Linked DNA regions of Homo sapiens: region 2 is linked to region 1. The links come from fine-mapping of genetic effects on gene expression. A gene starts in region 1. The other region holds a variant in brackets. All regions are shown on one strand. Distances are between the middles of the regions.

The links.
Region 2: its variant is fine-mapped to the expression of CAMK4 in whole blood (INTERVAL, PIP above 0.99).

The regions. Positions count from the first base shown.
Region 1 is chr5:111,215,852-111,229,205 of GRCh38, forward strand. CAMK4 (calcium/calmodulin dependent protein kinase IV) reads left to right here and starts at 8,533. Exons shown (of 11, transcript NM_001744.6): 1 at 8,533-8,793. The coding sequence starts at 8,633. RefSeq lists enhancers at 7,662-7,761, 8,722-8,771 and a silencer at 8,122-8,611.
Region 2 is chr5:111,477,115-111,494,176 of GRCh38, forward strand. It overlaps CAMK4 (calcium/calmodulin dependent protein kinase IV), which reads left to right. Exons shown (of 11, transcript NM_001744.6): 9 at 1,267-1,393; 10 at 5,671-5,823; 11 at 6,912-17,062. The coding sequence ends at 7,352. Among named protein-coding and RNA genes, the nearest start is that of STARD4-AS1, 27 kb to the right of the region's middle. The variant T/A (reference allele first, on the strand shown) is at 7,495.

The DNA.
Region 1 (13,354 bases):
AAATTAAGTTAATCTTTGTGGTATAAGAAAAAGATTGTAGTTCATTTGTTACTATGTGTTTATTTAATTATTTCAGTACCACTTACTGTAAAAACTTACCTTTGCCTATTTAATTGCTTTGATACTTTTTTCAAAATTTAATCGACCACATGTATATGATTCTATTTCTGTACTCTATTCTTTACCATTGACCCCTTTTTTTCTTGTTATACTAATATCACAATGTCTTTATTTCTGTCTGTTTATAGTAAGTTTTAAGGTCAGATAGAGTTCTCCAACTTTGTTCTTCTCAGGACTGTTTTGGTATCCCAGATGTTTTGTATTTCTTTACACATGTTAGCATACATTTTTCATTTTCTACAAACAAAGCCTATTAAGATTAGTCTGCATACCAGTTAGGGAGAGAATTGTTATGTTAATAATACTGAGTCTTCCAGTCAATGAGCATGATATATCTCTCCACTTAGATTTTTTTCAACTTTTATTTTGCATTCAGAGGGTACACGTGCAGGTTTGTTACATGGGTATACTGCGTGATGCTGAGGTTTGAGGCATGGTTGACACCATCATGCAGGTAGTGAGCATAGTACCCAATAGGTAGTTTTTCATCCCATCCACCTCTTCCTCCCTCCCTCTTCTAGTAGTTTCCAGTGTCTGTTGTTCCCACCTTTATGTCCATGTTTACTCAGTGTTTAGCTCCCACTTATAAGTGAGAACACGTGATATTTGGTTTTCTGCTTCTGTGTTAATTCACTTAGGATAATGGCCTCCAACTACATCCATGTTGCTGCAAAGGACGTGATTTTATTATTTTTTATGGCTGTGTAGTATTCCAAGGTGTATATGTACCACATTTTCTTTATCCAGTTCACCATTGATGAGTACCTAGGTTGATTCTGCCTTTGCTATCATGAATAGTGCTGCAATTAACATACAAGTGTAAGTGTCTTTTTGGCAGAACGATTTATTTTTCTTTGAGTATATACCCAGTAATGGGATTGCTGGGCCAAATGGTAGTTCTAAGTTCTTTGAGAAATCTCCAAACTGCTTTCTACAGTGGCTGAACTAATTTGCATTTCCACTAACAATGTATAAGTGTTCCCTTTTCTCTGCGGCTTCACCAGCATCTGTTATTTTTTGACTTTTTAGTAATTGTCATTCTGACTGGTATGAGATTATTTCTCTTTGTAGTTTTGATTTGCAAAAATTTCACTTAGCAATATCTGGTAATTTTAACTGTAGATGATTTGGACATCTTCTGTTGAATTGATTCCTAAGTATTTTATGCTTTTTATTCTATTGTAAATGAAATGGTATTAGTGAATTTTCCTATCATTTCCTATTAGTATTTGTTTTATATTGTGATTGTTTTATATTGACCTTGTATATTGTGACCTTGACAAATTCACTGATCAATTGTAGTAGTCTAAACCAACTTTTAGAATTTTCTATATAATAGTCAAGTCATCGGTACATGACAACAATTTAACTTCTTTCTTTCCAATATTAATAACTTCTAATTTTACCTAAGTTAGAGCACTGGCTGTGCCTTTAATTTTAATTGTTTTTATTAAGATGTAACTTAGGTACAATAAAATTTATCAATTTAAAAAGTATAATTCAGAGTTTTGACAAATGAATAAAATCCTGTAATCACCACCATAACCATGATATAAAACCTTTCCATCACTCCCCAAATCCCTTAGAGTCTTTTGCATTTGATTCCCTCCCACTTTAGCCCTGGAGAACTACTGATCTGCATTCTGTCACTTCAGTTTTGCCTTTCCTTGAATATCATATAGAGGGAATTATTTGTAGTATTTTGTGTTATATATATAACCCTCCTTGGGTTATTTATTTTGTTCAGTGAAAAATCCACCAATAGTTGTATGGCTAGGGGCAAAATAGACATAAACCTATTTCTCAACATTCTGGGAGCGTGTGCCCTCAGGGGTCTCGCTACTTATCGTGCAGAGTTTCACTTAATCTCTCTTTTCAATATGGCCTCAGCTGTATCTTCTGACCTAAAACATATTTCGTTCCTTGTTCAACATTTACAAAATTAAATATATTATCTTCTTCTAGGCTTTGGTAGGAGTGTTTTTTGGCTGTGAATTGTTAGAAGAGGTAATCCAGGAAGCCTAAAAGCTTTAATTTAAAAAAAGAATTTGTTATGAATACATAATATTTGCACTTATTTATGGGATACATGTGATATTTTTATACAAACATACAGTGTGCAGTGATCAAATCAGGGTAACTGGAATATCCATCCCTTCAAGCATTTATCACTTCCTTGTTGTTAGAAACATTCCAATTCCACTCTTAGTTATATTGAAATATGTAATAAGTTACTGTTAACTATAGTTGCCCTATTATGCTACTGAACATTAGATCTTATTCCCTGTATCTAACTGTATTTTTGTGCTCATTAACTATCCCCTATTTATCCCCTCCTTGCTATTACCCTTCCCGTCCTCTGATAGCCATCATTCTACTCTCTATCTCTAAGAGTTCAATATTTTTCTTAGCTTCCACATATGAGTGAGAACATGCAATATTTGTCTTTCTGTGCCTGGCTTATTTCACTTAATGTCCTCCAGTTTCATCTGTGTTGTTGCAAATGACAAGATTTCATTCTTTTTATGGCTGAATAATATTTCCTTGTGTATACATACTACATTTTCTTTATCCATTCATCCACTGATGGATACTCAGGTTGATTCTTTATCATGGCTGCTATAAATATGAGAGTGCAGATGTATCTTTGATATACTGATTTCCTTTCTTTTGGATATATACTTAGCAGTGGGATTGTGGACCACATGTTAGTTCTATTTTTAATTTATTTATTGTTTTGAGGAACCTCCATTCTGTTCTTCACAGTGACTGTACTAATTTATATTCCCACCAACAGTGTACGAGGGTTCCCTTTTCTCCACATTCTCACCAACATTCATTATTGCCTGTCTTTCTGATAAAAGTCATTTATTAGAAAGATTGTATCTCATTAGAAGCTTTGGGTCACTGAGCCTGTTTAATGGTAGGTTTCACTCTAAGGTGATTTTCTGATAAAAGTCATTTATCAGAAAGACAGGGGTGAGATATTTCCTTGTTTTGATTTGCATTTCTTTGATGAATAGAAATTTCTTTATATAGTTGTTGGCTATTTGTATGTTTCTTTTGAGAAATGTCTGTTGAGATCTTTTGCCCATTTTTCAATCTGATTTTTTTTCCTGTAGAGTTGTTTGAGTTTCTTATATATTCTGGTTATTAAACCCTTGTCAGATGGATAGTTCGCAAATATTTTCTCCCATTCTGTGGGTTGTCTCTTCAGTTTTTTTGATTGTTTCCTTTGCTGTGTGCAGAAACTTTAGCTCGATGTGATTCAATTTGTCCATTTTGCTTTGGTTGCCTGTTCTTTTGAGACCTTACTCAAGAAATCTTTCCCAGACCTATGAAATGGAGTGTTTCCCCAATATTCTCTTCTAGTAGTTTCATAGTTTCAGGTATTAGATTGAAGTATTTAATCCACTTTGACTTGATTTTTGTATCGTGAGAGAGAGGGTCTAGATTCAGTCTTCTGCAAATGGACATCCAGTTTTCCAAGCACTATTTATTGAAGAGACTGTCCTTTCCCTAATGTATGTTCTGGGTGCCTTTCTCAAAAATGATTTGACTGTAAATGCATGAATTTATTTCTCGGTGCTTTCTTCTGTCCTACTGGCCTATATATTCGTTTTGATGCCAGTATCATGCTCTTTTGGTTACTTTACCTTTGTATTATAATTTGAAACCAGGTAATATGACACCTCCAGCTTCCCCCTGCCCTGGCCTCCCCTCAGGATTGCTTTGTCTATTTGGCTTCTTTTGTGGTTTTACATAAATTTTAGCATTATTTTTCCTATTTCTGTGAAGAATGTCATTGGCATTTTGATAGACATTGCATTGAATGTGTAGATTGCTTCGGGTGGTGTGGGCATTTTAAAAATATTGTTTCTTCCAATCCATAAACATAAAATATCTTTGCATTTTTTTGTGTCCTCTTCCATTTCTTTCATGAATGTTTTACGGTTTTCATTGTAGACATCTTTCACTTCTTTGGTTAAGTTTATCCGTAGATATTTTGTTTTATTTGTAGCTATTGTAAATGGGATTACTTTTTCATTTTCTATTTCAGAAATGCTACTGTTTTCATATGTTGATTTTGTATCCTGCAACTTTACTGGACTGATCAATTCTAATAGTTTTTTTTTTTTTTTTTTTTTTGGTGGAGTCTTTAGGCTTTTTTAAATATAAGATCACATCATCTGCAAGCAAGGACAATTTGACTTCTTCCTTTCTAATTTGGATGAAGGGGCCTAATAACTTTTTATAAAATTTTTTAACCAATGTTTTGTTCTCTGTTCTATGCCTCACCTTGAGAACTATCTGGTACTCTAACTTCTGAACATGTCTTGATTTTATAGTAGGGATTAGATTTCTTCTTATTGGCTTTTCCCATTGCAAATCTAGGTTTCTGATTTATTAACTCCTCTGTTACTGTTTGTTTACGTGTTCAAGATTCAGTTGACATCACTTCTCTCTTTCTTTTTGTGGGATGATAACCCTGTTCCTTTTCTGGTCATTTCAGTTGAGTTTTGATAAGAAGTAATGGTACATTTTGTATATTTAATTCCTGTTTCATCTATTTTAATATTTATTAATTTTTATCTATGTCTCAAATGAAAGTAAGCTGCATGGATTATACAAAATATCCTGTTTTTAAACTTCAATTAATAGCATTTTTACAAAAGTCAATTATGAAAAGCATAGATGTCAAATGACTAAAATTATGCTGAATATAAAATGAATTCTATAATCACCTCTGTACCATGAAATGGCTTTCTTGCACCATTGTTACCTAAAGTAGCAGGAGAAAAAAGGCTTACCATCTCCTTTAATGTAACATGCTTGCTTTGGGCTTATGTTGTAAAAGAATTGCTAAGAACAGACAAGCATTTACATGCAGTGCTGCTGCTGCTGGACTTGCCTCAAAGAAGTGAGAATAAAAATGGCCTAGCAACTATTTCATGCCCATTTGTCCACTGGTCAGTGCAAGCCAAGGGAAACTTACTGAGTCAAAGCTAGAATTTAGAGAGCTTTATTATCTTGCTTTGCTTGTGAACTTGATTTTTCAACACGATTAGTGAATCTATTCTCTGAAAAGTAACATCACGTGGGCATTTTCAGTCTTTCACCAAACAAGCTAGTATGTAAGTGAATTTGTATGAATTTGCATATACTTGTTATTTGTTAGAGCATTTGTACATTGAGTTTGTGCTCATCATTATAAAATTATCATGAGGAATAGTTTTTGTACAGTCATGTGTCACACAACATTTTGGTCAACAATGGGCTGCATGTGTAACGGTGGTCCCACAAGACTAATAGAGTTGAAAAATTTCTGTCACCTAGTGACATCATAGCCTAATCTTACAGTGTAATACATTACTCATGTGTTTATGGTGATGCCACTGTAAACAAACCTACTGTGCTGCCAGTCATATAAAAGTATAGTGTATACAATTATGTATAGTACATTATACTTTATAATGGTAATAAATGACTATGTTACTAGTTTATACTATGTTACCAGTAAATACTAGTATAGTATTTACTACACTATACATTTTATTGTTATTTTAGAGTTTTCTCCTCTAGCTATAAAAAAAGTTAACTGTAAAACAGCTTCAGGCAGGTCCTTCGGGAGGTATTCCAGAATAAGGCATTGTCATCATAGAAGATGACAGCTCCATGCATGTCATTGCCCCTAAAGCCCTTCCAGCTTTCAGTGGGACAAGATGTGGAGGCGGAAGACATGATATCGATGCCTGTCTCTGTGTAGGCCTAGGCTAGTGTGTGTGTATGTTTTAGTTTTTAACAAAGTTCAAAAAGTTAAAAAAGTTGTTTTAAAAAGAAGAAAGCTTATAGAATAAGGATACATAGAAAACATTTTTGTGCAGCTTTACAATATATTTTGTATAAAATACCTTGTATTTGTGTTTCAGCTAAGCATTACTATAAAGGAGTCAAAAAGTTTTAAAACATTAAAAAGTTTATAAAGTAAAAGTTACAGTAAACTAAGGTTAATTTACCATTGAAGAAAGAAACTATTCTAAATAAATTTAGTGTAGCCTAAGCATACAGTATGTATAAAGTCTAAGTAGTGTAATGTCCTAGGCCTTCATATCCACTCACCACTTACTCACTCACACGGAGCAACTTTTAGTCCTGCAAGCTGCATTCATGGTAAGTGCCCTATACAGGTGTACCATTTTTTACCTTTTATACCATATTTTTATTGTACCTTTCCTATGTTTAGATATGTTTAAATACACAAATACTTATTGTTGTGTTACAGTTGCCTACAGCAGAGTTCCCAACCCCCAGGCCATGGGCTGGTCTGTGGCCTGTTAGGAACTGGGCCACACAGCAGGAGGTGAGCTGCAGGCAAGCAAGCAAAGCTTCATCTATATTTACAGGGGCTCTCCATCTCCCACATTACTGCCTGAACTCTGCCTCCTGTCAGATCAGTGGTAGCATTAGATTCCCGTAAGAGCATGAACCCTATTGTGAACTGCACATGCAAGGGATCTAGGTTGTGCACTCCTTATAAGAATCTACTGCCTGATGATCTATCACTGTCTCCCATCACCCCCAGATAGGACCGTCTAGTTGTAGGAAAACAAGCTCAGGTCTTCCACTGATTCTATATTACGGTGAGTTGTATAATTATTTCACTATGTATTGCAATGTAATAATAATAGAATTAAAGTGCACAATAAATGTAATGCACTTGAATCATCCCAGAACCATCTTCCCCACCCCCTGTCTGTGGAAAAAATTATCTTCCAAGAAACTGGTCCCTGGTGCCGAAAAGGTTGGGGACCGCTGGCCTGTAGTATTCAGTATAGTAAAATGCTGTACAGGTTTGAAGCCTAGGAGCAATTGACTATTCCATCCAGCATAGCTGTGTAGTAAGCTATACTATCTGGTTGTGTACAAGTACACCCTATGATGTTCTTACAACTGCATCGCCTAAGGATGCATCTCTTCAACTTCTCACCGTGGTTGAGGGATGCATGACTATATATATTTTCAATTTCCAATCAGCTAGGAATCACATTCCTGTAACTACTTGATTGGATATTTTTGGTTGTTTGTTCACCAGTATAGCAGGCAGGCTTTTAAGAATAATAAATCCATAAATTAGATTAAAATATTGGACCATATTAATGGTTGGTGCTATCAGGAATGGAGACTTACTAGGAAGAGTTTAGCGCATGTTGGAGGAAACTCAGGAAAAAAAAAAGGCCAAAAGTAACACCTGTGAAGTAAGGTGAAAGCGCCTGGAGCTATTTAGCCAGAAATGAGTTGTGGTATAATAACTGTCATAGATATGTATCAGAACATGACTAATTGTTGTTCGTCTTTGCTGAAATCTGAAAAGAAAAAAGTTCAAGGGTAGTTTAAGTGATGTATGTTTAATACTGAGAAGAAGAGCCATGACAGCTGATGGACAGGACATAAGAATGCTTATCATGGGATACATCTCTTGGGAAGAGAAAAAGGGCTTTTACATGTAGCAGTCTTCCCTGTCATGAATGAGGACAGGTCCTGCCTTAAGGCAGAGGGTTTACTAGTTGGCTTCCACAAGGCCCTTCTAGAACTGTAATTCTGAGCCACTTCAGATGCTGAGATTGAACTCGACACAGCCAAGTATCTCCTCTTTTAGGAGCTCCAGCAGTGCCGAGGAGGCAGTGCCACCAGCAGCGACGACAGCATTTATTCCAACTGAAGACTTCACTCAAAGGTGAGTCAGGTCAGTGTGGACCTGGGCGCTTCCTTTTCCTCCAGCTCTCACTGGGTCCAGGCACAGGAGCCCTGAGGGATCGGCGACCACAGTACTCCCTCCCCGGCCACCAATATAAGCTTTGACAGAGGATGGCTGGTTAGCTGGTGTTAGGTGGGAGGGACTCGCCACGGAGACGCGCTCAAGGAGGGATGAGTTGCGCCACCACCACCTAGGTCCCTCTCTCGCTATCCGGCGGGGCCGCCCGGACCCAGGTGCTGCCAGGGTACGCCTGGCGCCCGCCATCCCAGAGCAGCGTCCCGCTGCGCACGGTCTCCCTCCAGCTCCGGTCCCCGCGGGAGGGCGCGTGGGATGATGCGCGGGTCCTTGTGCCTTCCCCAAGCTCCAGCATCCGGAGCCGCCCTAGCCGGCACCGCGGCAGCCACAGCCTGGGAGAGAGAAAGGAAAGAGGGAGGGCGGCGGGAAAGGCTCGGCGCGGGAGGAGGGCGGGTGAGGAGGGAAGGAGCGAGGGGGAGGGAGCCTCTCTCCTCAGCGGTGCAGCTAGTCTCCCTCCAGCGGGCGGCGACTCCGGGTTCCCCCTCGCGCCCTCTCGCAGAGGCTCGCCCCCTTCCCCGCCCACCGTCCCTGCGAGCGCGGGCGGCGGCGGTGGGCGTGTGCGCGCGTGAAGGACGCCGCCTCTCTCTCGCTCCTGCGTTCGCAGGCGGCGGCTGGCGGCCGGCTTCTCGCTCGGGCAGCGGCGGCGGCGGCGGCGGCGGCTTCCGGAGTCCCGCTGCGAAGATGCTCAAAGTCACGGTGCCCTCCTGCTCCGCCTCGTCCTGCTCTTCGGTCACCGCCAGTGCGGCCCCGGGGACCGCGAGCCTCGTCCCGGATTACTGGATCGACGGCTCCAACAGGGATGCGCTGAGCGATTTCTTCGAGGTGGAGTCGGAGCTGGGACGGTAAGGCGCGGGCTCCGGCTGGGGAAGCCCGCGGCGTGCACTGGGGGTTGTCCCTCTCGCAGCGACGGCTCGGAGGGTGCGGGAGCCTGCCTTCGTGCCCTTCGATTTCTCCCTACCTAGTTAGTGTCTTGAGAGAGAGCTAACCTTCATTCAGGTGCGGCTCGAGTCCTTCCCACCCCACCAGAGCGCCTAGGCCGGTGCAGCTGTAGGATCAGCCCGACTCCCTCCCACCTTCCCTCCTTCTCGCAGGCTGCCACTTCCCTTGGGTGACAGCTCCCACCGCACGTGGGCCCTGCTTTCCCAATTGATATCTTTGCTCACGATTATAGCTTGCCAGAGGGTCCTGTTTGTCTAGTTATTGTTTAGGGTGGGGGCCGGAGGGTGCCCCTCCAAATCAAGACAGAATTATTAAGTTAGATTCCTCCTCCTTCCCCTCGTCAAGCTCTCCAAAGCAAGTGACACGAGAAATTAAACTTAAATACTAGCTTCCCTGCAGAGTCTGCTCAGGAGTGAAGGGAGAAATGAATCATTTAAGAGAGTTGAAGGCAGAATAATGAACTAGTGTGGCTTTAAAGAGAAAGCAGCATATGGGATCCAGGCAGTGGTAATTAGTGAGAATGCTGCTGCTTCCCTTCTTTCATGGGCTGGAGTGATTTATTTAAATTATATATGCAACAGACCATCTCCCTAGGATTGCAGATATGTCCCCTATCCCTCCTCTGAAGATCCAAACAGGTAGCAGTTTGGCCTTCTGCATGATTCCATATGCTTTCGTATTTGTATCCATTGAAAATTATAGTTTTCTTTCCCTTACTTCCTTTTTTTTTGTCTTTTCTCTCTGTTATCCATAGGTAAGGAGATTTATTTTCAACACTTATTTTAGATCCAGGCTCTTTAGTATAGGGAATCTGAAGATGTAATTTCAACGGTTGACAAGTTGCAGCTTCTGTACTTACTACTCCTTTGCAATTTCATTTTTCATTCTCTTTTTGCTGGAAATAGTATTGCTAACAGCCTTTTTATTTTTTCAAGTCATTGGAGGATCCAGAGCAGGATTCTGGATGTTGGTATTTAGTGGGAAGATGTAATGATCACTGCCCACTCTCCCCCCACTTTGCTAGTACTATTGAAGGCTCATTGAATATAGATGTGTAAAATAGGCAAACTTCTGAATGAAAATTCAGTGATTTGTCACTGTTAAAAATGTTTTGAAGTATTTGAGCACTGAATAATGTATACATAAACATCCATTTTTGATCAAGTTTTTCAGTATTCATCTGAAGATCTATTATATATATAGGTGGAAATGAAAGGACAATGATGTCGATTTTTGTAAGGTCCAAAACATGCCTGTTATTAATTGTATGATGCGTGACAGTGGAACCATGTAAACCTCTGAGTAAAGGGATGATCTACTTAAAATTGTTTACTGGGTGTTTTATAAACTACTGTGTAGTAGAGGAAGTGCCTGATGCTGCTGCAGGGACTGTCCCAGTAGCACATCTGTTTTCAGAGTAACATTAACCCTAGATGCCTCAAATAGGCTGACTTATCCACACACGTTGTCTTTATGAATAAGCTTCATCGTCATGAAACTCAAGAAATTCACTTTAATTTGAAAAATGGGAAAAAAATAAACTGCCAATTGTATACCCCTATGAGATGGTAGCCTGCATAGGAAAAAACTGAGAAATTTGAAGTTTGGGTTTTTTATTTTTCAGTTCAGAATTACGTGTTGCAGTAAATTTTGGAGGACAAATATTAATCGGTTATACAGAAGCTTCTCAACTTATGATGGTGTTATGTCCCAATAAGCCCACTGTAGTTGAAAATATCAGAAGTTGAAAATGCATTTACTACACCTGTGCTAACAAACGTTGTAGCTTAGCCTAGCCTACCTGAAACATGCTCAGAACACTTAATATTAGCCTACATTTGGGCAAAATCATCTAACATAAAGCCTATTTTATAATAACTGTTAAATACCGTGTACAGATGGGATTTTGTAGACATGGTGAGATATGAAACACAAAACACAATATTCAAAAAACACTGACAACAGAGAACACTCTAGAGTTCCGGTTGTTTACCCTCCTGTGGTTAACTGGGAGCTGTGGCTAATGGCCGGTGCCCAGCATCAGAGAGAGTATCCTACCATGTATAGTTCAGGAAAAGATCAAAATTTGAAGTACGATTTCTACTGAATGCTATCACTTTCCCACCATCATAAAAGTCGAAAAATTGTAAGTTAAGCCCATCCTATTGGAGACCCTCTGTCTATACATTGCTAAGATTCTCGCTCTATTATCTAGTCTTATGATTACTGTAAAAGATCACAGAGTTAAACTACATTGAGGAACAATAAAAGCTAAAATGTCTTACTTAGGCTCTGTTTGTCAGCAGTAAAGCGTATTGTTAGGTAAGTTTTCTGTACATGGCAGCATTCGTGGGGTGCATGCTTACTCTGGCTGAGACTTTGAGAAGTATCATTTTCATTATCAGAAATTTTTAAGTAAATAAACTTAAAACATCAACTACTATTCTAGATATAATTATTAAGAATCGATAGAGCCAGAGAATGCAACAGAATGATGATCGTAGATATTGGCTGAGTGACTAAAATCTTCTTTCTTCCTACACTAGAGATCAAGTTGAACTCAGGTCATCAGTTTCAAGCCTTTACTCTCAGCTTTGGACCAAATCCACCTGCTAGTGTGACTCTAATTCATTAGTAATGCAGTTGTCATTAATATACTAAGAGAACAGTGCTTCTGGTGTTACGTGTTGCTGTTGTGGTTAGCTCTAGAAAGTAGACAGTCTCCACCAGAATTAGTGATTTGTTGGCTCCTCCATTACAGTTGTCTGTTGTAAAGTAGTGACTCCTGATTGCAAGAAGATTGGACGGTGACCACTGGGGCGATACACCCTGAGGATGTGTTTGGGAACTCAAGGGGAGCTAAACTCCCAAGGCTATATCCACCTGAAGCCCCTGGATAGTGCTGGCGAAGGCAGGTGCTGGCAGCACTGATCCACATGGAGCCATTGAGACCAAGACAGATGTGCTCACTTTCTTTTGGCAGGGAGGGCATAGAGTATAGGGGTTACGGGTGAATTAAAAGTATCAGGCAAAGTAATTTTCCTAAAATCACATTTGAAGACACTGTTTTGTTCATAGAGTTTTTCAAAAAGTTTACAAAAATCATGACACACACACATTCAACTCTACTTAAAAATACGAATTGGCCATGATCCTATTCAGGGCTCCAGATCCTCGAGAGCAGTTGGTCTTTTGCCCAGTGATTTGAGAAACTGGCATTTTAAAGGCTTTTCTGAGGGAGAAGGGAGCTGCCTCTGGTCCAGATCCCGCCCAGTGGTTTGGCACATGGAATGACAGGAAATGGCCCAGCCTGCTTGGTGGTGCAGATTTCGTCTGTGCATGCAAACCCATGTCCTGTTTTCAGTTGTCTCACCTTTAGTTTCTCACTGTTGTTCCATGTTGAAAGAAAAGATGATAAGAAAACCAGATGTATTCCCAGACATACAAATCCAAGGAAACCAAACCAAATGAAAGATAATTAGAACAAGAGAAGAATGTGTTAAACTATTTTGGAACCTTTTTTTTCTTTAAATTTAGTTCCCATTCCACTTACTGTAGTTTCTTTAGGCTAGGCACTTTGCATACTCCTCCCCACTGCAATGTAATTTTAAATAATACATTTATGTGTCACATTTATGTAAACACAATTATGTGTATACATTTATAATTTTAAATACATTTATTTGTCAACTCAATTAAACTAATTATATAGGATCCCTTGCTATATGTATTATTGTTTAGGAACCAAATAGATTTCCATAGTAAGGGGTGTGTGTGTGTGTGTGTGTGTGTGTGTGTGTGTGTGTATAAAACAGAAACAATTTCATAAAACAGTGTTTATTCTTATTACCAGCAATGCACTTTAATATTTTCTATTATATGCTGTTTGATTTCATCTATTTTGTTAAAAAAACTTGGCTGAACCCATGTGATTTCACATCCCACTAATGTGTTGTGATTCAGTTTGAAAAGTGCTGTTGTAGGCCATAAATCTGTGTGTGATAGATTAAGCTATGAGGCAGAGTCTTTTAAAGAAATTCCCTGCAGACCAATTGGCAACATTGGGTGGTATCCTTTTGGCACAGCCCTGTAGAGAAAAAGGCTCCTATCTTTGCCTCCAGGTCATTACTGATTTTTCCCCTTCTAAACATTTTGGAAAAACTCTGGTGTCTCCCTAAGGTCTGCTGGGCACACAGTAATTTGAACTGGCTAAGAGTGCCAGGGGCTGTGTTGGGAAGGAACTCAGAGACTGAGAAGTGGTATATTCTACATGGTAACATGTATTCTGGCTCCAGGTCACAGTGAGCAAATGCTTTCTATAAGGAAACACGAAAGCGTGCATTTTCTAAGAGAAGGGCTTCAGCCAATGTTCTTGGCTTGTCTTAGTGCTCTTGGCTCTGGTTGATATAACAAGATGTCTTAGACTGGGTGGCTTAAACAATAAATATGCATTTCTCACAGCTC
Region 2 (17,062 bases), 260 kb after region 1:
ATGTGCCCTGTCTCACCTTAGGCTGCTCTTCCACAGGTGGGTCAGGAGCGGGATTCTCTGTGCAGACTGCTCAGTAGGGAAAGGGAGAACACATTGGCCCAGGGGTCTGCACTGTCAGGCCTTGCATTTTTCTCACTGGCTCCAGAATATCTGGAAGAGACAAACATTCTCCCAGTGGGACATTCTGTGAGTAAAAGGACATACGAAACTGCTTCTTTCTAAAAACTCACTGTATTAGGATGCACTTTAATTTTTCATGCTATGTACCAACCTGGCCAGCTTGAGTGAAGCCTTTGGGAAAATGTCTTTTATTCATCCTCCCTCCCACCCTCATTTTTTTTCAAATGGAACACATGCAACACATGCCCTGCCATGGGCTTTTTTAAGCAGTTCCCTCTTGGTCCCTACTGATTTTAGAACTTCCACCCGTCTGTAAACAGTGGATGCTTGGTGGTCACAAACAACTCGCTTTTCCTTTCTCTCTTGTTAAGATGCCCAAGATAGTTCTCCGTCCCTTTTATCCCACTTTTCCCATTCATTTTTAAGTTGACTCCATAGTAGAAAATGATACAAAGAATGAGGTAAATTGAGGGTGCTCATCTCTTTGGCTGCATCTGGTGACTATATTAATCTTATACATTTTTTAAGGTCATTGCCTGACAATAGTTTCAGCTTCTGTCTTTGTTCACTCTGAAATCCAAACTGGAATGGAATGGAAATGTCATAAAGCTTTACTCATTTCTATGGAGGATTTCATAGAATAGGGCAGAATAAAAATAAGTGAAAATTTCTAATTTCCACTTTTTAATTTCTTTACTCTCAAAATCCCAGCTCTTCCCTTTCACACTAAATTGGAAGTCTATTCAATCTCTGTCTGCCTGTCTGTCTGTCTTCTCAATACCTGTCAAAAAATCCATGGAAAGGCTTTAGCATAATGTCTATAATGTTAGCTATTATTATTATTGTTCTTCTGTGTAATAAGAATTATAATAATAATTATTATTACACAATAATTATAATTATTATTATAGCTTTTTGTAGAAATCCTAAGTTGGTTTTATATTAATTCCTACTTCCTGAGGACTTGATTGTGTGTTTACACTATAAATAGTGAATTGTAATAAGGCAGTTGCATACTTAAGCTGAGTAGACTTGCTTCCATGGCAGGAAGCAGTGAAAAAGAACAGTCCTGAATTCCTACAGAAATTGGATGAAATATACTTGAGCTTTTAAAGACATTTTATTCTCTATATTTTATTCCTCTAGACTTTGTGGATTTGAACCATTCTATGATGAAAGAGGCGATCAGTTCATGTTCAGGAGAATTCTGAATTGTGAATATTACTTTATCTCCCCCTGGTGGGATGAAGTATCTCTAAATGCCAAGGACTTGGTAAGTGTAACCAAAACAAAATGAAACAAAATGAAATAAATTTATTTTTAACTAATTAATGGGAAGTACAATTTTTTAAAATTTTACCCATATTAATGCCATATTTTCTTTCAATTTTAAAGTATTTTAATAAAATTAGTTCATTAATACATTTTCCTTAGAGAATAAAAACTAGATATGTTTTTGACTCATCACTAGTTGAATTATCATAAACTACAATTACTACAGTATTAATGAGCTTTTACTACCTTATAAGTATAAAAACCTTGCTTATGAAGAAAGCTGTGCTGGGTGAATTCAAACACAATTTACACAGAATTCTGTTTTAACATGGCTTGCAATTGCCTAGAATTTAGATGTACTTCATTTCTTTTTTGTTTCTTTGTTTTTGAGACAAGGTCTCACTGTCACCCAGGCTGGAGTGTAATGGCATGATCATGGCTCATTGTAGCCTCCAACTCCTGGGCTTAAGCAATCCTCCCACCTCCATCTCCTGAGTAGCTGGGACACAGGTGCATGCCACCACACCCAGCTAATTTTTAAAAGTTTTTTGGAAATATGGGGTCTTGCTATGTTGCCCAGGCTGGTCTCAAACTCCTGCCCTCAGGCGATCCTCCCACTGTGGCCTCCCAAAGTGCTGGGATTACAGATGTGAGCCACTGCACCCAGCCTAGATATACTTCAAGTAAAACAATACTGCTTCCTGAAATTTCATCAAATTTATTAAAATATCCTAATAGTAACGTAAGTCCCATTATGCATCATTGGCATTATAAAAATGTTCCACTGTGTTAATAGTTCATTTTGTTTGTTTGTTTTTACATTGCTTCTCACTTAAGTTAATATTGACATTTGTTTGCATTCAGGAAATCCATACCTTCTGGGGAGGTCACTCACCTCTTATAAAATAAAGAGGATGCTAACATGAGATTGAAACATTTCTCATCAATCCACTAGAGAACAACCACACAGACATAATCAAAAGCTGACTTTTGAATCATAGAAGGTTAGATATAGAAGAGGTCTTAGGAGGCATCTAGTCCTCCTCTCATTTTAAAGATGAGAATGCTAAAGACCAGAGAGGTGAAATGACTGCTAAGGTCACACAGCTTCCCAGCAGAAAGACATTATTAGGGCTGATCCAGTCGTCCAGACTCCCTTTCCTGTGCTCTTTTTTCTTCAAGCATTTCTTCCTTACCCTCTGTGTTCCTTCATGGAACAGATTCCCTAAGGCTCATGGCTTTTCCAGCATGAGTGGGAAGAGAAAGTCAGTGTGTGTGATGTGTGATGTATAAATATGTCATTGCAACTCCTTCCTCAAGTCATACCCCATGCTCCTAAACACCTCTTGAATCCATCCAGTTCTCTCCCCCGGACCACTGCCCCAACCTCCTATCTGACCTCCCTGCCTCTTCTCATGCCTTTCTCAAATACAGTCTGTACAGGATCCAGAGGGATGGTCTTATAAATAAATCGCATCATGTCCTTGTCCTGCTTTAAGAATCTTAGGATAAAATCCAAAACCCATAACAAGATCTACATGACGCTGCCTGGTCTGGGGCCTGCCACTCTCTCCTGTGCCATCACTCACTTCACATCTCTCCCCTTTGATCACTTTTCACTCTAGTGCACCACACTTCTAGTTTCTCATCAGCATAGCTCAGGATATTGCCATGGCTCTTCTGCTCTGTAATGTTCTTTCTTCCTCCCCACCTTCTTCTCCATTACACATAGGCATGTAAACACACACACACACACACACACACACACACACACACACACCCCTGGGTAACTCTTATTCTCAAGCCCCAGCTGCCACTAGATATCCCTTGGGAGGCATGGTCGGCCTTCCCCTTCAGTCCCTCCCACCTATAGTTGGTTCCTTCTGCCAAAATCTTCCTTTACCCCCTGCACTCCCCAGTTCATAACAGTCATCACTTATATATTTAATGGTCCTCCTTAATTAGATTTTAAGCTCTGGGGCAGGACAAAGCGTGTGTACCCAGACCTTAGAACCACATAGGCATATAGGACTGACTCAGTAAATGTTTATTGGATGAAACAATGGATCTGGAAGTACACCGTGAAGTTTCAGAGTCTGACACACCTGGATTTAAGTGCCCCCTTTGTCATGTCCTGGAAGTGTAACCTCAGGCTCATGATCTAACCTTGCTATGCTTTAGTTTTCTCATCTAGGATGATAATTGTACCTATCTCTAGGTCGTTGTGAGAATTAAGGAACATAATATATGTTAAGTAACTAATATCAACTAACTTAATAATAGTAATCTTATTTAGCCCTCCTTCCATTTCTTTTCACCCTTAATAAATATTAAGTGAATAAGAGGGTTAGCTTTGATGTTCCTTCATTCAGCTAGATCCCTTGTTAGTTTATCACTGCTTAAAACTTCAGAACTGGAAGAATCCTTGAGCTCCATAAATGTATACTTACTAGCAAAACCCACATCTGTTGTGTCATCGGCAGAGACTAAGTGCTAAGGAGTTGGGGAATTGGATGTAAGGGGTACTGCAGGGTAATGGCAAGGCTTTGAGTGTGATTATAACCTTCAGAAAGTTTCCTAATAATTCAGTTAGGATTGTTATCAATATCTTCAAATGTAAAGATTAACAATGGTGTATATAAATTTTTGGTGCACATTGACTTTCAATAAATTCTTTGTATTTTTGTGAGGAAGATAGTAATGAGGAGGGAGAGGAGAAAAATGATTGGAAAAGAAAAAGAAAATACCTAATTGTCAAAAATGTTGTAAGGATTAGGGCTCATTTACATAAAATTATTAGTAGTCCTGTTCAACGGATAATAGCCATGACTACTATCAGATTTTTATTTACTACCATGCCTTCTTTCTCTTAACCATCCTACCTTCCTCCATGTCCTCTCAGATTTTAAGCCTAAAGAGCCTCATGTCTCTGCCCACTACAAATCTAGCCCAAACACACATTCTTTTGCAGAAAGGAAGTGAAGAGAGAACCAGATAGTATTTATTCCTCATTTGACTTGCCGCCTGATTTCCTTAGCCTATGTTCACGTCTCCTTAGGTAATTAGAGTTAGAAAAGACCTGAGACCTACAATCATTCAAAGCTCCTTATTTTGCACATGAGCAGGCCAAGGTACAGGGAGATTGACCACCTTGGAGACATCATGCTGTAGTGGCCACAAGATGCGCTCTGACATACACAGACCTGAGTCTAAATACAGGCTCCATCAATTCCAAATTGTCTGACCTGAGGCAAGTCACTAAATCTTTCTGAGCTACCCTGCTTCCCTCATTTATGAATTGGCACTAGTAGTTCCAAATGATAAGGCTGCTAAAAGATTACATGAGTTTTTAAAAAGTTATATATGCATCTAAGAAGCAATTACAAAGGAATTAAAGTGGAAATAAGATTCTGTAAGGAAAGAGCCTGAGGGGGTGTCCACAGGCAATTTATATATTTGTCTATATCTAGGGTCACAAAAGTGGCGAGTGGCATAACCAGGGCTTGAACACACTTCCTGACTCCCAATAGTCTCTGCCTCATATCAGGTCACCCCTACTAAGCCCAGGACTGTGGATTATTTTATTTGCTGACCTTCCTGGGAATTTATTGACTGCCCATCCTCACAAGCAGGGGTAAACCTCCAAGAATGGGCTGCCATTGATTGGATTCCATTCTTTAGGCAAATCATGCCCTCAAGCCACTGACTTCTTGGATTATAAAATGATTTTTAAACTCTGGGCTTAGTCCTTCAAGTACCCTCAAGGGGTTAGAAAGAACTATAAACCCCAAGATAGAAACATAAGGTAGTATTCCATAAGTTCTGGGATACTCTCCCTTTTGTTTGCCATTTAATCCCCACAGAAAGAATGATGATGCATGAATGATTCCATTCTGTTACCATAGAGATGTACTTTAAGTTCTGAATTCTAGGTGATTGTGAAGCGCAGCCCAGAATTATTTTGCTGGTTCTGCCTTCAAAGAACTTCCAGTCCACAGGCAAGTGAGGAGCTGTTTCTTGACTTCTGTTGGAAAGCCGTCTGCCACTTTGGGGGTCTCAGGTGGTACATGGCCCTGTCTTCTCATACTCCCTCAGCTACTGCTACCTGAAGCTGTGCCTACCTACAGTGGCCCCTGAGGACTTAAACAATTTTTTTCTCACATATATTTAGTGGTACTGCTGGGAAATGGAATAAGATCTGGAAGTTTGTAAGCTGAGGGCAAGCCCAGGTCATCCTAAAAACCTCGCTAAGTTTATGGTTCTTTATTATTTCAGGTCAGAAAATTAATTGTTTTGGATCCAAAGAAACGGCTGACTACATTTCAAGCTCTCCAGCATCCGTGGGTCACAGGTAAAGCAGCCAATTTTGTACACATGGATACCGCTCAAAAGAAGCTCCAAGAATTCAATGCCCGGCGTAAGCTTAAGGTAAGATAGCATATATTTTGTTTTGTTTTGTTTTGTTTTCAAAAAATTTATCTCATCTTGATCTATCAATAATAGTTCTACCGTTCTTCATCTAATACTATTATCTATTTCTTAAGGCACCAGGGAAAATCCTGCTTTGAAACTCCAATAAGGCTGACACAAAGCTACTTAAGTTTTCTTATACTCTCATAAGGAATATATGATTAATAAAGGGAAATTTGTTATATAAGTTGATATTTACATATCAAATATATTATTGCTGCTTCTCATCTAATTAAAGTATACTGCTTAAACAGCATTGTTCAGGGAAAACTGATATTTATTCAGAAAGTTGTTTTCTTTCAGAATATGTAAAACTTGGTAAACAATTTTTGAAACTATATTTCCTAATATAGATAAATAATTACTTGACAAAAATTTAAAAATTTAAGTGATATAATAAATTACTTAACTAAATATATCATTTTATATAGTACCTATCGAATAGAGATTAGGAGCTTTTCTATTACATAACTGTGTTTAGGACTAGCTATGTAAGTAGAGGATCTCAGAGAGCAGCTGGGGGTCAGAATTAGGGTCCTATGCAGCCATTGCTTACGGTCTGATACAGACTAAATAAATCTGAAAGGCTCCATGGTCAAATTAATTATAAATACCCCAAATTAAATAGTATTGACTTCACCTAGGATTTCTCCAGCTAGTTTGATCACGGAACTCTTATATCCCCATGATGACATCCATGTGGTAAAAACTACTAACGTCCACAGAACTAGTGTTCCGTAAAACAAATACACCGGGAAACACAGATTAAAATTTTCAAAAATTGGTTAGCCACAGGTAAACACATGTATTCAGGCTTTCAGTTGTCCAGATGATTAAATACACTAATTTGTATTTAATTTGAGATGAAAGAGGTTTTACTGTTCATTCTCCAAATTTTCTTTTGGCAAACAATCTAGGAATAAGGTACTTTGAAAACTTTAACGCTAACCTATAAAACGGAATCCCTAAAAGCAAAGCTGGGGTTGAGCTCTGATGTGGGGTGTTAAAGCAGAGGTAACACTTGACACTCTTCTGTTTCCAATCAGGCAGCGGTGAAGGCTGTGGTGGCCTCTTCGCGCCTGGGAAGTGCCAGCAGCAGCCATGGCAGCATCCAGGAGAGCCACAAGGCTAGCCGAGACCCTTCTCCAATCCAAGATGGCAACGAGGACATGAAAGCTATTCCAGAAGGAGAGAAAATTCAAGGCGATGGGGCCCAAGCCGCAGTTAAGGGGGCACAGGCTGAGCTGATGAAGGTGCAAGCCTTAGAGAAAGTTAAAGGTGCAGATATAAATGCTGAAGAGGCCCCCAAAATGGTGCCCAAGGCAGTGGAGGATGGGATAAAGGTGGCTGACCTGGAACTAGAGGAGGGCCTAGCAGAGGAGAAGCTGAAGACTGTGGAGGAGGCAGCAGCTCCCAGAGAAGGGCAAGGAAGCTCTGCTGTGGGTTTTGAAGTTCCACAGCAAGATGTGATCCTGCCAGAGTACTAAACAGCTTCCTTCAGATCTGGAAGCCAAACACCGGCATTTTATGTACTTTGTCCTTCAGCAAGAAAGGTGTGGAAGCATGATATGTACTATAGTGATTCTGTTTTTGAGGTGCAAAAAACATACATATATACCAGTTGGTAAT[T/A]CTAACTTCAATGCATGTGACTGCTTTATGAAAATAATAGTGTCTTCTATGGCATGTAATGGATACCTAATACCGATGAGTTAAATCTTGCAAGTTAACACAACGTAACACTTAAAAGCATACATTTTCAGCAACCAGTGGCACATATTTGAAGTGAATAGTAGCAAATTGTTTTTGCTTTGAAAATCTAGCCATCCTACATCCTTTGGATTTCTTCACAAGGCAGTAATTCCTTTGAACTACTGCTTAGCTAATACTAGGTAGTGCTAAAAGACATGTTCCCATAACTTTTACAACATTTTACTTTTTATCATTGATGTGTTCAAACTGTTTACAAGGAGATGCTTATAGATGATAGTTGTACATATGTGCAAAAAAAAATCCACTTGCAATGGTAAGAAATTGAAGTATCCTTAAAGGCCATGAAGCCATATGTCCCTAAAGCCTGTGTGGAGAATGCTTTATTTTATTCTTATTTATATACACTATATTAATAATAACCAAAATGTTCTAAGATTCTGCCATTTTACAACCCTGGAGGAAGTAATTTACAAACTCACGCTGAGTTCCATTCTTTCCTTCACCTGCTCTCCAATAAGATGACTTTCTGATAGACAAAGCTTAGGGTGTAATAAACAGGGAAGAAAAGAAGGTAAGACTGTACTTAAACTGATGAAGATAAGATTGATTCCTTTTCATTTTCCAGATAAAATTGTATTTACTCATGAATTTATACAACTTTACAGATAAGAACATTTTAATGGATAAACTCTATAATTACCAAGTTGCAAATATTTAGAAAATTCTATTTCACAGGTTAGTGCCAAAATGTCTTCATAGAGTAGGAATAATATTCCATTTTAAGATTATTCATTATTGACTTTAATAGAGTAAGAAAACATTATTGTTTATCAAAGCTCTTTTTTTATCCAATTGATGGTTATCTACACATATCACTTATAAACTAAAGTTATTTATGAAAAGCTAGTATGTCTTTTTCTCGTATTTGGAATGAAAGTACCCACATTTTACAATGTAGTGTTGAGAATGTGGCTGCCAATAAATTTAGCACAATGCAATTTATTTACCTTAAAAAACAAACAAAAACAAAAATAAAGAAAAATACTGATTTCAAATCAGACTCTTAAAAAGCTGGAACATTAGACCTGATATTTTATTATGATTTTTCCCAGAATAAGTTTAATTTCTCTTTGACTTTCATAGAAACACTTTCCCCTTATAGAAATTGCACTATCTCCAATTTATTTCTAGTTTGAGTTGAAATGAATATTTTATCAGATTAATTATGTGTCACATTTTTGGTGGGTTTTCTCAATTTTAAAAAAGAATTCATTTTAAAAAATAATTATTTTCAGAGACCAAATAAAGACAATAAAAATGACTATCACATAAAAATCCTTGTTAAAAAAGAGATCTTAAATTATGTTGGCTCTCCCTCAAAACTATTAAATTAGAAAACGAAACTAAAGCTCCAGTTTGTAGAGGCTGTTGGACCTCAGTAGACATTCTTCTTTTCAATCACAAATCTCTCTCTACTACTGTTCTCATGGGAAGAAAACAAGGTAGGACTTCTTATCTTTCATAGTTTAAGAATCTGACAGGTCACTGATATGGAGCCCCTGAAGAAGCACATCATCTGGGCTCAGAAGATTATTTTTTGTTTTGTTTTATTTGTACTATCTAGTAGAGAGCACTTTTCTTATTCCCTCTTTCCTTCCTTCCTCATTTAATTATTCCCTCTCAGAATTCCCATGTTGTCCATTATAAGGGGCTCGCTATTTTTAACCTTTAAGAATGTCTTCTTTGTTAAGCATTAAGATTTCCATTTAAGAGGATCAATTTCCTGTTGTACTTTTTACCATGAGACTGAAACACACACACACACACACACACACACACACACACACACACACGTGTTGGAAGAGCAAAGAGAGGGAAGGGGGTCTTTTTAGAAAGTGGCACTTGGCGCTTAGCTGAAAGATCAGAACACATCATTCCTCCCTGCCCACCCCCATATTGTTCCAAGGGCAGTTGTTACATTATTTCAACACTAGAGTAGGGCGGACTGCATTGTTTGGCCCTGAGAACTATAGAAACAACGTTGCAAATACCATGCCCAATGTGTATTTTAGAATTTACTCATTTAAATGAGTGCATATTACCATTCCTCCATGTGAGTACTCGAGTTGATAATTCCCTCTATCTTTTTAAACCCATAAACTACATTTTTAAAAAAATCAATGGGAGTTTTAAATTTTGACTCATGTTAAAGATAAGATTCTGATAATGACTATATAGTGACTAATTTCATTGTTTCAGTAGGAAACAAATCAAACTTTCAAAAATGTTGGTCATTTCAGTCAAATTATTCAAAGATTTCATATACATACATCCTAAGTTAGGATAATTATGTTAACATTTTTGAAAGAACAGCCAATGTTTATATTGCTTGTTAAAATGGAATGTATTGTCTATCTCAAAGATTACTTAGCTAAATAATAGTAGACAAATGGAGATTTAATTTCACAAAATACTTCATAACATCACTCCTAATTGGCAATATAGTCACAAAGCAAAAGAATTCAAATTTCAGCAAACAATAAATTACATTTTACATTTTAGAGCTAACACTTATCACATTACATTATGGGTTTTTATTTTGAGATAAGTTCAGCTACATAGCATAAACTAGGTTTTTTTTTATAACCATGAAGGACAGTCTTGAATTATTTCCCCCATTAACAAAGTCTAATTGGAATCCAGTATTTTTTCTCAAACTGTAATTTCACTTGTCCCAGGACACATAAATAGGTAAAAATTAGAATAATATCGTGGTAGAAGTTAATTGTCCAGAACAAGTGCATTATATAAATATAATGCAAGCACATGTCATTTAAGATTTTCTATTAGTCACATTTTAAGAAAAATAGATGAAAGTATAGTATTTTTAATCCAATTCATCCAAATTATTCTATCGATATATAGTCAATATTAAAATTTAATGTGATATTTTGAATTCTTTATTTTTATACTGTTTTCAAAATCAAGAGTGTATGTTAGGCCTTTGGGACATCAAGTGCTCAATAGTCACATGTGGCTAGTGGCTACCATATTAGACAGCACTAGTCTAGAGTACTTTTTATTTTAAGCAAAGTGACACTTGAAGTTCTATGCTTAGATTTAAGTGGCCTCAGTTTTCACATTGAGGAGCTGGTGGGAGGCCACAAAGAAAGTGTTTCAGAAATGTTACACACTGAGTAAAAGCTTATTGACCACTCCTGCCCATTCATTTACTTCAGAGGAGAAATGATTCCTAACATGACTTCAAAGAACGGGCATTACTAAATTATCTACTGACCAATCCCTCTGATTCCTGATGGGCCCTGGAGTCTTGACTACAGCCTAGAGTCTCCTGAGTACTGCCATGATGCCAATAGCATTCTTGCTTACCAAAATCTACTCTCAGCCAACTATGTGTCTTCATTCAGGAAGAACTGCACATAGAATCTGATTTTGAGGCCTGGATTAAGCTTCATGCCATCCTTGTATCACAGGCAATATGTCTTTCTGGAAATCTAATGAACCATACCAAATCTGCATGATGAAGATTGTGTAATGATGGTGATATCATGCCAGTTATCCTCAAAGTGGGAATATGACCATTAGCTGGCATTTTTTAAGATTTCCTTAGAAGGGTTTAATCAACACTGCCATTACACATGGATTTAACAAAAGACTTTTGAAAATTTTTTACATACTGATTTTAGAATAATCCTCAAGGTTCTATAGTCATTTTTAGTGGAAGACTTAAAAAGAAAGGAACAATTTTTACTGTGACTTCAATTTCATAGTATTTTAAACATATTTTGTAATTCAGAATGTTTAGCAATCCCTATGTCCTGTTTCACATGCATGGTAACTGATGGTGGGTTGCCTACAGGCTGAAGATTTGGAGAGAGCCATTTTGTTTCATAAATCAGTTTTTATTGCACAGAAGCAGCTGGTTGTATTTCAAGTTGGAAAAAGAAAAGTAAATGCCAGAAAAGGCAAAGGATAAACTTAGTAAGCCATTTATTTTGTTTTAGAATTGTTTTTGCAAAGCAAATTTTTTTAAAAAAAGGTCAACAAAGTGAATCAGCACTAGCATTTTCTTGATGGTTGACTCAATGTATAATTAACAAATATACATAGCAGAGTCAATTAATCATAGTGCCATTATGTCACTTATTTGTCATTGCAAAGTATTCAGTCATGTTGTCTAGATTTACTTTAGATGGTGCAAAATTTCCAGATAGTAACCTATGTAAAAGGATTTGTAATTTCCTTGTAATTCCTGCCTATTAGTCCATATTCTGATTTCCTTATGTTCATCACTGATATGTTCCTGATCAGGGTCATTGCTAGTAGTTGAGCATTTACTGGTTGAACATTGTTTAATGGTTAGATGTTATGTGTGTCTGCATTTAAAAAAATTGTGTACATGTTATTTCACTATTGGTATTACAATATTCATAACCACATGATAAACAGAAATGTACCCAATAATTTCCTATAAAATTTTTCAAAGTCCTTTTATTCCCCTGACACACTCAGGGTGAATTTTTGTCTCCTTGGCAAATAAGAAAAAAAAGGAGAGAGACCACTGGAGAGATATCAGCAAACCACCCACAGTAACCAAGTTCAGTATTTCCTCTTTCTATATTTTGACCAATATATTAAGAGCAAATTTTGTCATTATTACTCCTTGTGGCTATTACCTGAGATCAGATAATATAATCTCAGCTCATAAAGCTTGGCCATGTCTATACTTATCTTGGAGAGCAATAACAAACTTGATTAATTTGTTTGGTTATTTAAAATTCCAACTTTCATAAATGCTCTGTGATGTACTCAAGACGATTGGGTTGTGTGATACTAACTTCCTTCAAGAACTCAGTCTGTTCCCTGTTGTCTGGTTCAGAGGTCCACCAGGGCAAAATAGAAGCCTTGCCGAGAAAGTGAACTGTCTTACTCCTTCAAAGGAATCAGATGTTGCTCTAGAGAAGACTCCAGGCATCTACCTGGTTGAGCTCAAATGAGGCAAGTGGGAGAAAACCTCTTCTCATCCTCTGATTGAAAGTGATACAATTTGAATATTGGTATATTGTCATTGGTCAGTAATGGAAAAATGAGATTCCACCAGTGGGTTACTCTTTTCTTGTCTTGGTTTGCTATGCCTTATCCCAGATCAGTGTTTTGTTCCATCCCTATGGTCATCTCTAAAGCCCTGACAGGAGCATCCCAGACTGGAGAAATGCAGCGTATCTGTGGCCCAGAATTTTGTTTGATACTCTAAACAGCAATGCAAAGACTGCAAAATCACACTATTCTAAACAGTTGTTTTCAGCTCATTTTGAAGATTGACCTGGAAAACATATAGATACAGAATATATACATTTAATCGTTGCTTGTGATTCATTGTGTCAAAATAACATTTAATTTTCACTCTGATTAATCTTTATTTTCCATTTAAAAGATTATTTCAGGCTACTTAAATACAAGACCTTGCATTCTAATTTTTGAAAGCGGTTGTTTTCCCTGAGCTCTCTCTCAACTTTGACAGTTTGTGAATGATAAAAAGTTACTAGGTTTGTCCTTTCCTTGATAGATGTAGAGCAGTTCATCTGTTTTGTAAAGGTACAGTTAAGCATAACTATAGGCTGGGCGTGATAGTTCATGCCTGTAATCCCAACACTTTGGGAGGCCGAGGTTGGCAGATCACCTGAGGTCAGGAGTTTGAGACCAGCCTGGCCAACGTGGTGAAACCCCTAATACAAAAATTAGCTGGGCATGGTGGCACGCTCCTGTAATCTCAGCTACTCAGGAGGCTGAGGCAGGAGAATCTCTTGAACCCGGGAGGCAGAGGTTGCAGTGAGCCAAGATCATGCCACTGCACTCCAGCCTGGACAACAAGAGCGAAACTCCGTCAAAAAAAAATATATATATATGACCATAAATTGAAAACTATCATCTCATACTGCCTCCTTTTAACCTGACCTATTTTATATACCTACAATACAGTTAATATGCAGCAGCGTAGAGAACAAATAGCATATTCATAATTTGTAATTTTGTTTTTCTTTTTACGGCACCCTTAAGTCTCAGTAATATTTTAAAAGTCCTCTATAAGCCAAAAGAACGTTGTAACATATCCATTTATTAAGGAGTTAGGCCTAAACATAGTAATAGTAGTCCATTCCATGTCCAACAGATGTTGCTGTGTTTCTTTCAACATTTTTCAATGTCTTGTGAGTTTAGTGAGTGGGTACAGCTGAGTTGGGGTTTAGGTGATTTCTTATGCCCAATGAACTAAAGGTATCAGTAAAAGATTATTAGTAAACAAATTAGTTATTTATGCTCTTACTTGAATGTCAGTCATTCATTTTATCTCTCGTCTTTGAGATACACACATTAAAACTTATGTGCATATTTTTTTAAAGAGTAATTTCCACATAATTCCCCAAGAACTGAACTCAAATCTCCAAAAATTTTTCAGAACTCAAGCAACCAATGATTCACAGAGCAAATCTACCAAAGCCCCATTTTTATTGGAACACAGGCATGCTCATTTATGTACATATTGTTTGTGGCTGCTTTTATGTTGTCAAGGCAGAGTTGAGTACTTTCAACAGAGACCATATGGACTGCAAAGCCTAAAATGTGTATCTGGACCCTTACAGTAAAACAATGACCCTGGGTTTTCATGGCACCCCAATGCCTTTTTGGTGACTTGCAGGAATACAGATTCCTATATTCCAGTTTGTTTTTTTTTTTTTCTCCTTAGCTTAAGGTTCGTATTCCCATTTGCTTCTGAGAAAGTTAGGAAAATTTTGTTTTATGTTGCAGATGCTCTCACAACAATAATTGTGCTGGAGATAGATACAACTTAGTGAAATTTTCCTACAGAACTAAAAACGCAAAATTGCATCACTCCTGAAGAAAAGAAATTTAGAGTATGAATTGAGTTGGTTGAGAGTAGAATTAAAAAGATTTCTAGCACTTTGAGCATGTTTTAGAAATTTGATCCTTACATTTAAAATTATGTAAATGACATCTTTCACTGGCATTTGCTCACATTTAAGTCAATCTACAGCTGTTACTTACTAAGCTAAGAAATAAGAAGATCCCTATGGTTCTGAATCTCTCATAATATTCTGAAGTAATTTATATCAATTGAATTTTCATTAATCATTTTAGGAAATATTATGTTTTATTTTGTGGCATTATATGACAATGACTTTCTCAACAATAGCTCAGGGAATACGCAAACAGCCAGCTCTTTTATGTAAGAAAGCCATTTTCTAATCCCCACGCTTTCCTGAGTGTTACGTATTTTATTTCTTTGAAAAGAGAGGGCCTTGAGTAAATGCTTTCGTTTGCTTTCCTTACATATTTAGAAATCCAAGAAGGGCCCTTGTCTTAGTCTATTTCTGTCACAGAGAAATTGTTCATTCCAAAATATCCACCTTAAGGGAAGCTAGTGACCGAGATATGGAGAAAAACATAGGCATTCATGACCTTTGTGTTTCCGTTTGACTTTCAACATCTGTAACCAAAAGGTCACAAATGAAATATTTAGTAGAAAGTGCAATATCAATTTATTAGGAGTACCTAAAATTATAACTCTAAATAATATACAGCAATATTATTGCTCTATTATTACAGCAATCAATAATATAATATAGCCACTAGGATACACTCGCTGTAGAACTCAGAACAAAAGATATCAATCTTCTGCCAGTCCGCATCATTATGTGTAGCAGAGACTTTACTGGAATGAGTGAGGGGAAAGATAACAAAATGTAGATTAGGATTCCACATTCTCCCCTGCCCATCTTCTTGATTGCTCAGTTTGAAGACGATCATTGATGGACAAATACTTTAGAAATGAATGAAGTCAATAGCTAATGTTTCTCCCAGAAACTAAACAACATAGTTTAGGGGATATTAGGCCTACATTCTAATCACATTGTAAGGAAGTGATTTTCTAATTTTGAAGCTTCCCAGGAGCAGCCCCCTCCAGGAACAATTTTCCCTGTGAACTTTCACTGAGAAACTATTATATGCCATGGAGGAGTCAAAGATGAATTAAATCCAATGCTATCCTCCAGGAGTGAGCTTTGTAGTTGGAGAGAAAAGCCAACCTTATAGATACAACCTGTACATATATAACCTATGCTGCATTTAGGCAGATGATAAGCCCTAGGAATGGAAAGAGGGAAAAGCTCCCTTTTGCCAGGAATGATGAAGGAAAGCTTTATGGAAACACAGGCTGTATGTGAAAGATGGGTGAATCTTTGCAGGTAGGGAAGAAGTAGGGGGCATGTCTGGCTGAGAACCGGCCTGATCATAGAGTGGAAAAATGAAAGGCAGAGGTGAAGGAAGAATACTAAATGTGAAAGGCTGAAATACACAGGGAAGTGTTGCCAGTGTGCAACAGAATCTCATCTCGTGCAAAATTGAATTAGACTTCCTTACTCCTTCCTTACTCTGGGTAGGTCCATGTGCAGCCTTTCCTCAGAGCATCTAGCCTGACATACTTGGCTCATCTGCTGTGCTTCTAAGCCAAATAAAAATCATCAAACACATCGAAGATATTTTTGGGAGTCACCAGGTTAAAGCAAAGCCTCAGTCACTGAAAGCAAAAACTGAATTGGCCAGGTCTCCACTGACAAAACAGAGTAAATGATAGTATGACAGATAATTTCAAGTTTTCCAAGACTCCAATTTCTGAAAAATGTCTCATGACTCCAAAAAATCACGTACTTCCTAAAATGTTGCCAGTGGAGGACCGAATCAAGGTTATTGCTGACCTCATTTTTTCAACCTTTTCAGTTATTTGACCTGAATAGGCAATCCCCCAGGATTTCTGATTGAATTCTACCTGAAAGTTTAGATTTTAAAAGACAACCTGTAGGAAGCTAAGTCTCAGGCAACAAAATTTAAAACCATCAGAACTTGTTTCTCCAAACATCAACCTGCTCCTGTCAAGTCCTTTTTCATCTCTCCCTTTTGTCCCTTTACATACTGTTTTGTAAGTTCCTTTTGATATCATTTATTGCAGGCAGTATTTTTACATCCATCTTCAAGAAACTTGGGAGACATTTAGACATTTAGTATGTGTACTTTTAGTTGTCTTGCCTCTTTATTTCAGATAATGCCTGTGATTAGTGAATGGCGGCATTATTCCTGAAGACAAATGAAGGAAGATAGGGAGCAAGATTGACTGTCATTTGAATGATGGAAGAGAAGTAGAATTACTGTGAGGTTACAAAAATCGTAAGTTAGCAGACATTGAGAAAGGAAAACTTCCTACTTGGGCTTTTCAGGCTTATGTGACATTATCTGGATGTGTTTTCTAGTCTTTCCTAAAGGAGAAATTTTTATTCCTGGGTTGCTGAAAGCTTTCTGGACTAAAAGGATATAAGCAGCTCAATAGCAGCATAGAGGATTAGATTAATGGAACAGCACTGCATACAGGAAAGCTACATCTCCAATAGTTTAGGCT